4 linked regions of the Homo sapiens genome follow. The protein of the gene in region 3 purifies or fractionates together with the protein of the main gene of each other region. This does not show direct contact. Each region holds a gene or a part of one and is shown on either strand. Other genes may lie near its edges.

Region 1 (3,500 bases), on a different chromosome or scaffold from region 3:
AATGTGGTAGAGAAAGTATGGATCGATGCCACTTAAATGTTAGGAAGAAGCTCTTAGAGCATTATCTGTTTAGCTAACTGCAAAACATAGCAGACATGTGGATTTTTTAATAGTCATCAAGGATCTAACTTATAATATACACTGGTAGAATTGCTTAGGGGGATGTCTGTGGTTTTCTGGACTTTTGTTCTTCTATATAGACCTGTATCAGTTGACTTATCATTCATACCACACACCCTTAGCTAATCAGAACTACCTTGTCCATTTATATCTTAGACTATTGTCTTTTTTCATAGTCACACACAGAGAAAACTTGAATATATGGCCTGTGTTCCTTTTTGGCTGCTCAATTCCTTGAGATGAAATATGGGTATGGGTTGCTTTGGCAATTACTTCTTTGCCGTTAACCAGTCATTCAGTTTTATTGAGTCTTTACAGCATACCAGAGGCTGCTAGTTACTAGTGATATAGTGGGCAACTATGTTCTGGTTCTCAAGAATATTCATAGTCAATAATAAGCATAACATAGTGATAATATGATACTTAGGGAGATACATAAGGTCATATTCTGGCATACTCTGGAGAGAGATACCGTAATCAGCCTTGAGGTGCAGGATGTGATCTGTAAACTGAGACCTGAAGTATAGTTAGACTGGTAAGAGGAATGAGGATATATATGGTGGTTAATAAAAGAACATTCTGGGTAGAAGATATAGCATTTGCTAAGACCTAGAGGTAAGAGATGTTATGGAGTATTTAGGAAACTACAGTTATTCATTTTGACTGAAATATAAGTGAAAATAGCTTTCATAGAGTCCTTACTATGTGCCAGGCACTTCATATGCATTAATTCATTATTGCTTATTTGATACTTGTCATATGAGATAGTTGTCATTTCTGCCATGATACAGATGAAGAAATGGAGACACAGAAAGAGTAATTGCCCATGGTTGCACAGCTTATAAATGGTAAAGGTAGGATTTGAAAACAGTCTTACTCAAGAGTCTGTGCTATCTTGCCTTCCCAGTTTTATTTTTTATGATCCTCTGGAGAGATAAGCAAGGGCCAGTTCCTAATGAATTTGGTTCTTTTCCTGAAAGGAGCCAGTGAAGAGTTTTGAGCACAGGATATCATGATCAGATCTATACTTTAAAAGTTTACTGTACTTTGTAGAGAGTGGATTGAAAAGGGCCAAGACTAGTAAGGAAACATTTGTGTTAATTCAGGGAAGTGCTAATGATGGCATTTGCCTGAGAAAGACAAGTGTGAGAGAAGTAGATGTAATTGGATGTGGTGAATGTAATTGGTTGTTGGAGGAGAGGGAGGATGGAGAGTCTGCCTAATTTTGTGGGTTGGGCCACTAAATAGGTAGATAGTGCCATTCATTAAGGAGGAACACAAGAGGAATTTGGAAAGCTTGAGATTATTTCAGTTTTGTAGATGTTGAGTTTGAGGTTCTTCTGGGCATATTCAAAAAGGGTATCTGTGGATATGGAATTCACAAGAGACCCTGTACAGATGATGAGGATTTATGAATCATCAATGTAGACATTATTGAAGCCAGAGAAGTGATTGTAAGGCACGTCTCTGAGAAATGTCTAATAAAGCAATGAAATAGGAAGAGTGCTTCAAGGAAAAGCTCAAGAAAGGAGAAACAGAGTGTGATGTTTGAGAAGACAAGGGAAAAAAACATTAATAGCATTAAATGCTTTAGCATTAAGTTCTTGGCTTCTCTTCTTGTAAAAATTTCCCAATTCAGAACACAGTGGGATTATTAACTTTCAATTGATAATAATAATGATAGGCAAACTTCTAAAATTTGTATTGTAGTTTGCATTTTATTATAAACTTTCTTTAAATTTTTATTTTGAAAAATGTCATATCTTCATAAAGATTGTAAGAAACACACTGTTGGTGTTAATGTAAATTAGTTCAACCATTGTGGGAGACAGTGTGGCAATTCCTCGAAGATCTAGAAGCAGAAATACCACTTGACCCAGCAATCCCATTACTGGGTATATACCCAAAAGAATATAAATCATTTTCTTATAAAGATACTTGCACACATATGTTCATTGCAGCACTATTCACAATAGCAAAGACATGGAATCAACCCAAATGCTCATCAATGATAGACTGGATAATGAAAATGTGGAACATATACATCATAGAATACTATGCAGCCATCAAAAGAGAATGAGAGGTCAAGCGTGGTGACTCATGCCTACAGTCCCAGCACTTTGGGAGGCCGAGGCAGGCAGATCACTTGAGGTCAGGAGTTCAAGACCAGCCTGGCCAGTATGGTGAAACCCCATCTCTACAAAAACAAAACAAAACAAACAAAAATTAACTGGTCATGGTACTGTATGCCTGCAGTCCCAGCTACTTGGGAGGCTGAGGCAGGAGAATGACTTGAACCCAGAAGGCAGAGGTTGCAGTGAGCTGAGATCGCACCACTGGACTCTAGCCTTAGCAACAAAACTAGAGTTTGTCTCAAAAAAAAAAAAAAAAAAAAACCGGAACAAGATCATGTCCTTTGCAGGGACATGGGATGGAGGTGGAAGCCATTATCCTCAGCAAACTCACACAGGAACAGAAAACCAAACACTGCATGTTCTCACTTATAAGTGGGAGCTGAACAATGAGAACACATGGACACATGGTGGGGAACAACACACACTGGGACCCGTCAAGGGGTCGGGGTGGGAGAACATCAGGAAGAATAGCTAATGGATGCTGGGCTTAATATCTAGGTTATGGGTTGATCTGTGCAGCAAGCCACCATTGTACACATTTACCTAAGTAACAAACCTGCACATCTTACACATGTACCCCAGAACTTAAAAGTTGATGGGAAAAAGAAAAACAATAACCACCCACATACCCTTCATATAGATTCACCAGTTCTTAATGTTGTGCCAACTTTGCTTTATCTTTTTGTCAGTATTTTTACACACACATGTATTTCTCTGTCTCTTGTTTGTTCAATCACATTTTTTGCTGAGTCATTTAAGAGCTAATTGCAGATATGATACTTTGCACTTAAATATTTCAGCTTGTCTGTTTGAAAAAGAAAGATGTTCTCCTACAATGAACACAATATAATTGTCATGCTCAGGAATTTTAATATTGATTCAACACCATTATCTAGTCCATAATGAGATTTCTTCTAATGGCCCAATAATATCCTTCAGTCTCCCCACCTCCAATATCCAAAGTTCTGTCAAGGATCACATACTACATTTGGTTCTTTATTATAGACTTTTTAAATATCGTTGTATACCATTGTGATTCTATCGTCTCCTTTAATAAAGAGGAGAACCAGAAAAATGAAAGGTCATAAGAGGAATGAGGTTTGGAGAATAGGTGAAAAAAGGCATCATAATGTTTATAATAATGTTTGCCTGTTCAGAGAAACAAGAATCACAGATAAAGTCACTTATATGTAGATAAGAGAATGCTGTATTACTTTTTGCTATTCTATTCACTGATCATTTTTC
Region 2 (3,500 bases), on a different chromosome or scaffold from region 3:
AATTGCTCTCCTCTCCCCCAGTAGTTTGTCATGAGCAGAAGTTGTTCAAGAATTGTCTTCTTTTTTTAATTGAATGAAATTATGTACAGTCCATTATCTGAAACAGGATGTCACCGAGTGCCAGAGAAAACAAAGGCGATGAAACCTTTGGGAGGGGACAGTGCCATGGTGTGCACATGCACAGCTCTAGCCTAGTGTATTCTCTTCCTGTTTCCATTTGAATCTGGAGACTCATCAGAACCCAACCCCTTGTTATATTGGAATATAGTTCTTTAGAATGGACAGCTGCTTGAGAGGCTCACCTAGGAAGCTGTTTCTAGCATGTACCTGGGTGTCAAACTTATTTTTTTTCTTTGAGATTGTGGTTATTTTCTCCAACTTGATAGTTACAGTTACATACACAGAATACAATTATGTTACCATTGTGTTGTATTCTAGAGTTAGTTTGTTTTAACTTCTAGCTTTTTAGATGGAGTACTTTTAATGTTTACTCAGGAAACAGTCTCTTAGGCTTGGGGACCTAGACTTGGCTGAGACCTAGTGCCTTAGGTTTTTGAAGCAGTGAGGGACAGAGTATTTCTCTGTATTGTAGTAAATAGGATATATTATTGACAGATGCAAGTAGAGAAAGGGACTTGGCACCTTAAACTTGCCTCATAAGATTCAAGTCTCACTGATAGGGTATATATATCCCTGTGCAAGTGAGAGCCTGTGCACTTACAGAATAGAATCTCATTTGCTGCACAATAGGGTTCTAGGGGAAAATGTCAATCTGGTCATCACAGCTCATAGTTTACTGTCATTTCAAATAGGCTTTATTGATCTCATGGCAATACTTAGTTTCAAGGTGTGGGTGGAATATCAACTCAGGGAAGTGGCTTGTGGATACAGATGTGGATGAGATAGAGAAAGCTGTAATCTCTGTTCCACATACCTACTTTAGTAATGAAACACTGTAATAGGTCTCTCAGGTGATCTTTTAATGCCTTGGCATTAGCTGAATAAATTCATCAAAATTTAATTTTTTTTAAACTGATACAGGAATTCATGAAGATTACCAACTGCCTTATTATGATCTTGTACCTTCTGACCCATCAGTTGAAGAAATGAGAAAAGTTGTTTGTGAACAGAAGTTAAGGCCAAATATCCCAAACAGATGGCAGAGCTGTGAAGTGAGTATTTCTTTTTGATATTAGGCAATTTTCTAAACTGCTTCTGCTTAGTAAGCAAAAGTTTGCTACTTTTCTTTAAGGAAAACTTTTCTTTAAGAATTTTCTTTTTCATAGCAGTCAAACCAATGTTTAAAAACAGAATAATTTGGTTTTCATATTCAATTGTAAGCACATTGAAAGGGCCATGGAACATTTGCAGTGGCCTTTAGTGTATCAGAACATAGTTTAGATCTGCCGGGCGAACTAAGGCACATATTTTTAAATGAATGCCTCCCTTCAGCCGGGGCAACCCAGAACACTAGACAGTTACCGGACATGAATGAGGAGCCCTGTATTCTAGACCAGCCTGGCTACCATTTCAAGGGTCTGACTCTGAACAAATCCCTTTAGTTCTCTGGACTTTAATATCCCTTTGCAAGGTGAGGAACTCAGATAAGGTGATTACAAAGGTGTTTCAAATGATTTTCCGTTTTATTCATCTGATTGCCCAGATAACCGTTAACCAGGAATTTAGGGAAAATGCTTTTTTCCAGCAGTATCTGAGCTGCTCAACTTCAGCTCTAACAAAAAGTTTTAGAAACGTTTTTGTAATTGTAAATTTAAAGATTCGTAAGATGAATTTTATTTAACCTCTCCTTAATTGCTAGCTGTTACTATTACAATATTGGTGAAGCAGAGCATATTCCTCCAGGTTTGAAGATTTGTAGCTTAAAAAGGCTATAAAAAGCTGTTCAGTTCAGTAGTTGATTTTACGTCTTAAACTATTGTAGGACTCAGCAGAACCTCTGATAAGCAAGAGAGCTTGCTACCTCCAACAAAATCACATCTCCAGGCCCAAATAAATAAAATGTATTTCAGCATGCTTAAGGAATTTGCATGTGACATAGTTTAATAAATGAGAGTGCTGCTAGATTTTGTCTTTTAGAAATTTGATCTACTTGGGAGGCTGAAGTGGGAGGATTGCTGGAGCCTGGGAGGTCAAGGCTGCAGTGAGCTGAGGGCATGCCATTGCATTCCACTTTGGGCGGCAGAGTGAGACCCTGTCTCAAAAAAAAAAAAAAGAAAGAAAAATTTGATGTGAATACTTCAAAGTACAAACTTAAAATTTCAGTGTGAGGTCAGATTTCTTCTTTGCTTTGCCCAGCTCTGGTTTAGGATTCGGCCTTTTCAGGTTTGCTAAATGAGTCACTCTTTGTCCACCTGCTTTCCAGCACTGGCACCAGTACCCTATTGATGGAAATTTATGTAATTTCTACTCATTTGCTATTACAAATAATGCTTAAACAATAACAAGTGTATATGTCATTTAAAAAGAAAATTTACACGTAAAAATTCTTATCCAGACCAATGGAAAATGGTGCATGCATTAATTTTTTTTTTTATATTTTCTTGTAGGCCTTGAGAGTAATGGCTAAAATTATGAGAGAATGTTGGTATGCCAATGGAGCAGCTAGGCTTACAGCATTGCGGATTAAGAAAACATTATCGCAACTCAGTCAACAGGAAGGCATCAAAATGTAATTCTACAGCTTTGCCTGAACTCTCCTTTTTTCTTCAGATCTGCTCCTGGGTTTTAATTTGGGAGGTCAATTGTTCTACCTCACTGAGAGGGAACAGAAGGATATTGCTTCCTTTTGCAGCAGTGTAATAAAGTCAATTAAAAACTTCCCAGGATTTCTTTGGACCCAGGAAACAGCCATGTGGGTCCTTTCTGTGCACTATGAACGCTTCTTTCCCAGGACAGAAAATGTGTAGTCTACCTTTATTTTTTATTAACAAAACTTGTTTTTTAAAAAGATGATTGCTGGTCTTAACTTTAGGTAACTCTGCTGTGCTGGAGATCATCTTTAAGGGCAAAGGAGTTGGATTGCTGAATTACAATGAAACATGTCTTATTACTAAAGAAAGTGATTTACTCCTGGTTAGTACATTCTCAGAGGATTCTGAACCACTAGAGTTTCCTTGATTCAGACTTTGAATGTACTGTTCTATAGTTTTTCAGGATCTTAAAACTAACACTTATAAAACTCTTATCTTGAGTCTAAAAATGACCTCATATAGTAGTGAGGAACATAATTCATGCAATTGTATTTTGTATACTATTATTGTTCTTTCACTTATTCAGAACATTACATGCCTTCAAAATGGGATTGTACTATACCAGTAAGTGCCACTTCTGTGTCTTTCTAATGGAAATGAGTAGAATTGCTGAAAGTCTCTATGTTAAAACCTATAGTGTTTGAATTCAAAAAGCTTATTTATCTGGGTAACCCAAACTTTTTCTGTTTTGTTTTTGGAAGGGTTTTTGTGGTATGTCATTTGGTATTC
Region 3 (3,826 bases):
TGAAAAGAAAGTGCTCTCTCAGATGGACTCTTGCATGTTAAGACTATGTCTTCACATCATGGTGCAAATCACATGTACCCAATGACTCCGGCTTTGACACAACACCTTACCATCATCATGCCATGATGGCTTCCACAAAGCATTAAACCTGGTAACCAGAGATTACTGGTGGCTCCAGCGTTGTTAGATGTTCATGAAATGTGACCACCTCTCAATCACCTTTGAGGGCTAAAGAGTAGCACATCAAAAGGACTCCAAAATCCCATACCCAACTCTTAAGAGATTTGTCCTGGTACTTCAGAAAGAATTTTCATGAGTGTTCTTAATTGGCTGGAAAAGCACCAGCTGACGTTTTGGAAGAATCTATCCATGTGTCTGCCTCCATATGCATCTGGGCATTTCATCTTCAGTCCCCTCATTAGACTGTAGCATTAGGATGTGTGGAGAGAGGAGAAATGATTTAGCACCCAGATTCACACTCCTATGCCTGGAAGGGGGACATCTTTGAAGAAGAGGAATTAGGGCTGTGGACACTGTCTTGAGGATGTGGACTTCCTTAGTGAGCTCCACATTACTTGATGGTAACCACTTCAAAAGGATCAGAATCCACGTAATGAAAAAGGTCCCTCTAGAGGATGGAGCTGATGTGAAGCTGCCAATGGATGAAAAGCCTCAGAAAGCAACTCAAAGGACTCAAAGCAACGGACAACACAAGAGTTGTCTTCAGCCCAGTGACACCTCTGATGTCCCCTGGAAGCTTTGTGCTAACCTGGGACTGCCTGACTTCCTTTAGCCTGGTCCCTTGCTACTACCTTGAACTGTTTTATCTAACCTCTCTTTTTCTGTTTAATTCTTTGCTACTGCCATTGACCCTGCTGCAGGATTTGTGTCATTTTCCTGCCTGGTTGCTGAGACTCCATTTTGCTGCCACACACAGAGATGTAAGAGGCAGGCTTTAATTGCCAAAGCACAGTTTGAGCAGTAGAAAACAACATGGTGTATATCTCAAATTGCCTGACATGAAGAGGAGTCTAACGGTGAAGTTTCACTTTTCATCAGCATCATCTTTCACATGTTCATTATCATCTGCTCTTATTCTTGCATGTTTAAACACTTAAAATTTTTAGTATAATTTTTAGTGTGTTTTGAAGTGGTGACTAGGCTTTCAAAAACTTCCATTGAATTACAAAGCACTATCCAGTTCTTATTGTTAAACTAAGTAAAAATGATAAGTAACATAGTGTAAAATATTCCTTTACTGTGAACTTCTTACAATGCTGTGAATGAGAGGCTCCTCAGAACTGGAGCATTTGTATAATAATTCATCCTGTTCATCTTCAATTTTAACATCATATATAATTTCAATTCTATCAATTGGGCCTTTAAAAATCATATAAAAGGATATAAAATTTGAAAAGAGAAACCTAATTGGCTATTTAATCCAAAACAACTTTTTTTTTCCTTCAATGGAATCAGAAAGCTTGTCAATCACTCATGTGTTTTAGAGTAATTACTTTTAAAATGGTGCATTTGTGCTTCTGAACTATTTTGAAGAGTCACTTCTGTTTACCTCAAGTATCAATTCATCCTCCATACATTTGAATTCAAGTTGTTTTTTTGTCAAATTTACAGTTGTCAATTGATCTTCAAGCTGCAGGGTGCCTAGAAATGGGCCGTTGTCTGTAGCCCTGGCATGTGCACACGGACATTTGCCACCACTGCAAGCAAAAGTCTGGAGAAGTTCACCAACGACAAGAACGATTAGGGAAAATATGCTGCTGTGGGTTAACAACTCAGAAAGTCCCTGATCCACATTTGGCTGTTTACTAAAGCTTGTGATTAACTTTTTGGCAGTGTGTACTATGCTCTATTGCTATATATGCTATCTATAAATGTAGATGTTAAGGATAAGTAATTCTAAATTTATTATTCTATAGTTTTGAAGTTTGGTTAAGTTTCCTTTCACTCAATTGATTTATTTTGTTGTTAATCAAATTTATGTTAATTGGATCCTTTAAATTTTTTTTGGCATTTTCCAACAAAAATGGCTTTATTCATAAGAAAGGAAAAAAATCAATGGAATTTGATATCTAAAGAAGTTAGAAAGGGAGCAAAATAAAAAACATAAAGGAGATAGATGAATTAGTAAGCAAATCAGTAGTCGAGTTTTTCAAACTGGCAAAATTAATTAATTGACTTTTAGCCCAAATTTACATTGTTAATTAAATCAAGAAGGAAGAAGATCTAAGAGCTCCCATTGATAGGCAAGCCTAGAGAGAACTAGCTAAATTTATCATGCTAGGATATTGAAACACAGAAAGTTTACATACATTTATGAAGGGTCAATTTAGTTTGGACAGTGAGGTATTTGTCTTAGTGGAAAAAAGGAGAATTAGTCTGATCAAATCGTGAAGTAATACAGTGAACTTGCAGGTGCACAAAATAAGAGGGCCACATCTATATGGTGCAGTCTGGAATTCTGTTTAAGTTTGTAGGTACCTCTTGGACTTCTGAATTGATCCAGTTGTCATCCACCACAGACATCTCACATCAGATACAGACAGTTCCAAGATTGACAACAGAGAACAACCTGCTGGAAAGACCTGGGCAGAAATGGAGAGCCCTGCGGGAACCATGCTACATTTTCATCTAAAGAGAGAATGCACATCTGATGAGACTGAAAGTTCTTTGTTGTTTTAGATTGTAGAATGGTATTGAATTGGTCTGTGGAAAATTGCATTGCTTTTATTTCTTTGTGTAATCAAGTTTAAGTAATAGGGGATATATAATCATAAGCATTTTAGGGTGGGAGGGACTATTAAGTAATTTTAAGTGGGTGGGGTTATTTAGAATGTTAGAATAATATTATGTATTAGATATCGCTATAAGTGGACATGCGTACTTACTTGTAACCCTTTACCCTATAATTGCTATCCTTAAAGATTTCAAATAAACTCGGAGGGAACTGCAGGGAGACCAACTTATTTAGAGCGAATTGGACATGGATAAAAACCCCAGTGGGAGAAAGTTCAAAGGTGATTAGATTAATAATTTAATAGAGGATGAGTGACCTCTGATAAATTACTGCTAGAATGAACTTGTCAATGATGGATGGTAAATTTTCATGGAAGTTATAAAAGTGATAAATAAAAACCCTTGCTTTTACCCCTGTCAGTAGCCCTCCTCCTACCACTGAACCCCATTGCCCCTACCCCTCCTTCTAACTTTATTGCTGTATTCTCTTCACTCTATATTTCTCTCTATTTGCTAATATTGCATTGCTGTTACAATAAAAATTCAATAAAGATTTAGTGGTTAAGTGCAAACTGTGTCCTGATCATTTCAGCATCTACCAGCATCAAGGGAATGGGGTGGGGTAGGGTGGGGAAGGCTGAGAGAGTAGGGAGAGTGGGAGAGGCTAGAGTAGGGTGGGGCTGTGGGGAGGGTGGGATTGTTGGAAGGGTAGGGAGGTAGGAGGGTGGGTAGGGTAGGGGTGGAATTGAGTTTGGGATAGTGGGGTGGTGGTATAAAGAACATTATTGATTACAACCTAGTATGAATTATATAGCCAGAATACTCCAGGAAATCAGTTATTCCAGCTGCAAAAGTTTAACATATAAAATAAAGATACACAATTAATAGCAACTCTGGTTGCTATTATCACAAACTTTAACATCAGTTTTACTTTAAATACTTGAGATTCATTAATATAAAATTATGAAGTATTAGGACATAGAAGAAGAGTTTCAAAGGGCTGCTAGGTTCATATGACATGACAGTCACATAAATATGACTGTTTATTGGGAAGATAGTGACTAAAAGGAAA
Region 4 (3,500 bases), on a different chromosome or scaffold from region 3:
GGACATGTACCCTAGAACTTAAAGTATAATTTAAAAAAAAAAGGCAAATGTAGTTTACATTAAGTCCATAACTAAAATGTTTACAAAACTAAGGGATAAATCCTTTTTTTAAATCGTTTTTAGGTACGAATGTGAAGAATCTTTTACGACCCTAAACGTAGACATTAGAAATCACCAAAATCTTCTTGATTCTTTGGAACAGTATGTCAAAGGAGATTTACTAGAAGGTGCAAATGCATATCATTGTGAAAAATGCAATAAAAAGGTACGGGCTGTCCAGTTTTGTTTAATTTTGATTACATTTAATGGATTTAGAAGAAATTGGTTTTTTTGGTTCATCCTCACAAGTCACCCTATTTTTATTTTCTCCTACTTTGGTATAGTGGTAGCAGAGAAGTAGTCAATATGATAACTAATAGAAGGTTTGGCAAGGAAGGAAAAAAAGTAGTGCCAAAGGGGCTAGGTAAATAAGATAAAAATAGGTAAATAAGAGTGAATAATTTTAAAAGTCATAACGTGATAGCACATTCTCTTATATAAGTTACACAGACACTTTCCATCTCTACCGAGAAACAAATTGCCATTGAACCCCTCAAAGATACAGAGCTGATAGAGGAAAACATTTCTCCTGTCATGTCCAGGATTACTTGTCAAGACCAAAACATTTGCTGAAACCATTAATTACTTTATTGAACCACATAAGATTTCTTTTAGACTAGTCAAGTGGCCCATAAGATTTCTTTTATCACCTATGTTATAAAACCATTTATTTTGGAAACTTATTAGCAGTTCTTTGAGAGAGATGATTCACACGCATTATAGTAATGAATAAGGTGTATCTTTGGGAGCTCCCAAACCCTTTCACCCTCAAGTCACTTGTGTTGTTTTGGCCTTATGCACCACTTAGAGAAGTCCTGAAGTTTAAAGATTGAGATTGTGGGCTGTAAAGCCATACTGCCTGCCACCTGCAGCTCCTGAGACCTGAGGCAAGTTACTTGACCTCTCTGTGATTACTAGTTTTCATCTTTTAAGGTTCAGTAGTACACACTTGAGAAGGTTGTAAGGATTCGGTATGTTTTTACTTGTGCGGCACTTAGTATATATTACCTGGCATCTGAATTACCCAACAAATATTAGCTACTCTTATTGTTATTGTAGTTCTTTGGTTTGTGCATAGGAAACCACCTTCGTGGGAACAACAGTAAACATCAAACAGGTAATAATGGCTAGATAACAATGACAGAAACCAGTCAACAATTTACCATTTGCATATTATTAATTTCAGCATTTAAATCAGCTGATAGGATTATCTTGATTATGCTCATTGTCATGTATTTGTTTATACTTAAAAATTCAGATAAGTCTTAATATCATTTAAAAGTTTGCTTGGGGTTTTTTTTTTTTTCCTGTGGATTTTAATAGAACATCTGGTAACTTTGTCTTGTTTATTTTAGGTTGATACCGTAAAGCGCTTGCTGATTAAAAAATTACCTCCTGTTCTTGCTATACAACTAAAGCGATTTGACTATGACTGGGAAAGAGAATGTGCAATCAAGTTCAATGATTATTTTGAATTTCCTCGAGAGCTGGACATGGAACCTTACACAGTTGCAGGTGTCGCAAAGCTGGAAGGGGATAATGTAAACCCAGAGAGTCAGTTGATACAACAGAGTGAGCAGTCTGAAAGTGAGACAGCAGGAAGCACAAAATACAGACTTGTGGGTGTGCTCGTACACAGTGGTCAAGCGAGTGGGGGGCATTATTATTCTTACATCATCCAAAGGAATGGTGGAGATGGTGAGAGAAATCGCTGGTATAAATTTGATGATGGTGATGTAACAGAATGTAAAATGGATGATGACGAAGAAATGAAAAACCAGTGTTTTGGTGGAGAGTACATGGGAGAAGTGTTTGATCACATGATGAAGCGTATGTCATACAGGCGCCAGAAAAGGTGGTGGAATGCTTATATACTTTTTTATGAACGAATGGACACAATAGACCAAGATGATGAGTTGATAAGATATATATCAGAGCTTGCTATCACCACCAGACCTCATCAGATTATTATGCCATCAGCCATTGAGAGAAGTGTACGGAAACAGAACGTACAATTCATGCATAACCGAATGCAGTACAGTATGGAGTATTTTCAGTTTATGAAAAAACTGCTTACATGTAATGGCGTTTACTTAAACCCTCCTCCCGGTGAGTATCAAGAGAGTTTAGCTTCTTAGTAATAAAGAATAATTTATAGTAGGCGTCAACATGTTTAAGTTCATAAAATTAATGTTTTCACTTTAAATGAGTCTAATTTGCTGGGTGTGGTGGTTCACGCCTGTAATCCCAGCACTTTGGGAGGCCGAGGTAGGTGGATCACCTGAGGTCAAGAGTTCAATACCAGCCTGACCAACATGGTGAAACCCCATCTCTACTAAAAATATAAAAATTAGCCAGGCATGGTGGCATGCACCTGTAGTCCCAGCTACTCCCTGTAGTCCCAGCTACTCCGGAGGCTGAGGCAGGAGAATCGCTTGAACCTGGGAGGTGGAGGTTGCAGTGACCCAAATTGATGGCCACTGCACTCCAGCCTGGGTGACAGTGAGTCTCCATCTCAAAAAAATAAAATAAAAAAATAAATGGGTCTAAATTAAAGTAGCCTGAGAAGGGTTCTTAACAAATTTAGGACTTCTCAAAATTAATGGAAACACAGACTTGTTTGAAAATGGGGTTGGAAAATAAAAATGTGTTTTTATATCTGCATTTTATTTATAGGGCAAGATCACCTGTTGCCTGAAGCAGAAGAAATCACTATGATCAGTATTCAACTTGCTGCTAGGTTCCTCTTTACTACAGGATTTCACACAAAGAAAGTAGTCCGTGGCTCTGCCAGTGATTGGTACATTGCTTTGGATTTTCATTCCTATTATACTAATGTTTGGTTTGCTTCTTTAATAGATTGCTTTATGTTTTTCTAAACCAAGAGAATTTTGTTTGAAGTTTGGAATATAGAATAAAAACTCTGGGTCACAATAGAGAAATCATATTAAAATAGTTACTTAGTCTAAACATGGCCTTTTGTTATTCAGAAGCTGACTTCTGCTTCTATTACCTTGTATCATATCTTTGACATCCCTGCACCAAAGACTACAAGCTGAGACTGGGGGACAGTGACTCACACCTGTAATGCCAGCACTTTGGGAAGCCAGGGTGGGAGGATTGCTTGAGCTCGGGAGTTCAGGACCAGCCTAGGCAACATAGTGAGACCCCCATCTCTTCAAAGAAGATTTTAAAAATTACCCAAGTATGGTGGCGCACACCTGTAATCCCAGCTACTCGGAAGGCTGAGGTGGGAGGATCGCTGGAGCCTGGGAGGTTGAAGCTGCAGTGAGCCATGACTGTGCCACTGCACTCCAGCCTGGGCAGCAGAGCAAGACCCTGTCTCAAACAAAACCAAAGATTACAAGATGAGACTGAAAAGTGTAAGCTACTTATGAAAT

The links.
Region 1: the proteins of PEG10 (region 3) and CEP290 purify together in Homo sapiens (affinity purification with mass spectrometry; 3 studies listed by BioGRID and IntAct, with this or other methods). This does not show direct contact.
Region 2: the proteins of PEG10 (region 3) and TGFBR1 purify together in Homo sapiens (affinity purification with western blotting; one study listed by BioGRID). This does not show direct contact.
Region 4: the proteins of PEG10 (region 3) and USP9X purify together in Homo sapiens (affinity purification with mass spectrometry; 3 studies listed by BioGRID and IntAct, with this or other methods). This does not show direct contact.

The regions. Positions count from the first base shown.
Region 1 is NC_000012.12:88,132,089-88,135,588, reverse strand, and holds part of CEP290 (centrosomal protein of 290 kDa), read left to right. Parts: intron 1-3,500. UniProt on the Homo sapiens protein: Involved in early and late steps in cilia formation. Its association with CCP110 is required for inhibition of primary cilia formation by CCP110.
Region 2 is NC_000009.12:99,146,613-99,150,112, forward strand, and holds part of TGFBR1 (TGF-beta receptor type-1 isoform 1 precursor), read left to right. Parts: intron 1-1,041; coding exon 1,042-1,172; intron 1,173-2,567; coding exon 2,568-2,693; 3' UTR 2,694-3,500. UniProt on the Homo sapiens protein: Transmembrane serine/threonine kinase forming with the TGF-beta type II serine/threonine kinase receptor, TGFBR2, the non-promiscuous receptor for the TGF-beta cytokines TGFB1, TGFB2 and TGFB3.
Region 3 is NC_000007.14:94,666,370-94,670,195, forward strand, and holds the end of PEG10 (retrotransposon-derived protein PEG10), read left to right. Parts: 3' UTR 1-3,326; downstream 3,327-3,826.
Region 4 is NC_000023.11:41,214,445-41,217,944, forward strand, and holds part of USP9X (ubiquitin carboxyl-terminal hydrolase 9X), read left to right. Parts: intron 1-123; coding exon 124-265; intron 266-1,454; coding exon 1,455-2,208; intron 2,209-2,775; coding exon 2,776-2,899; intron 2,900-3,500.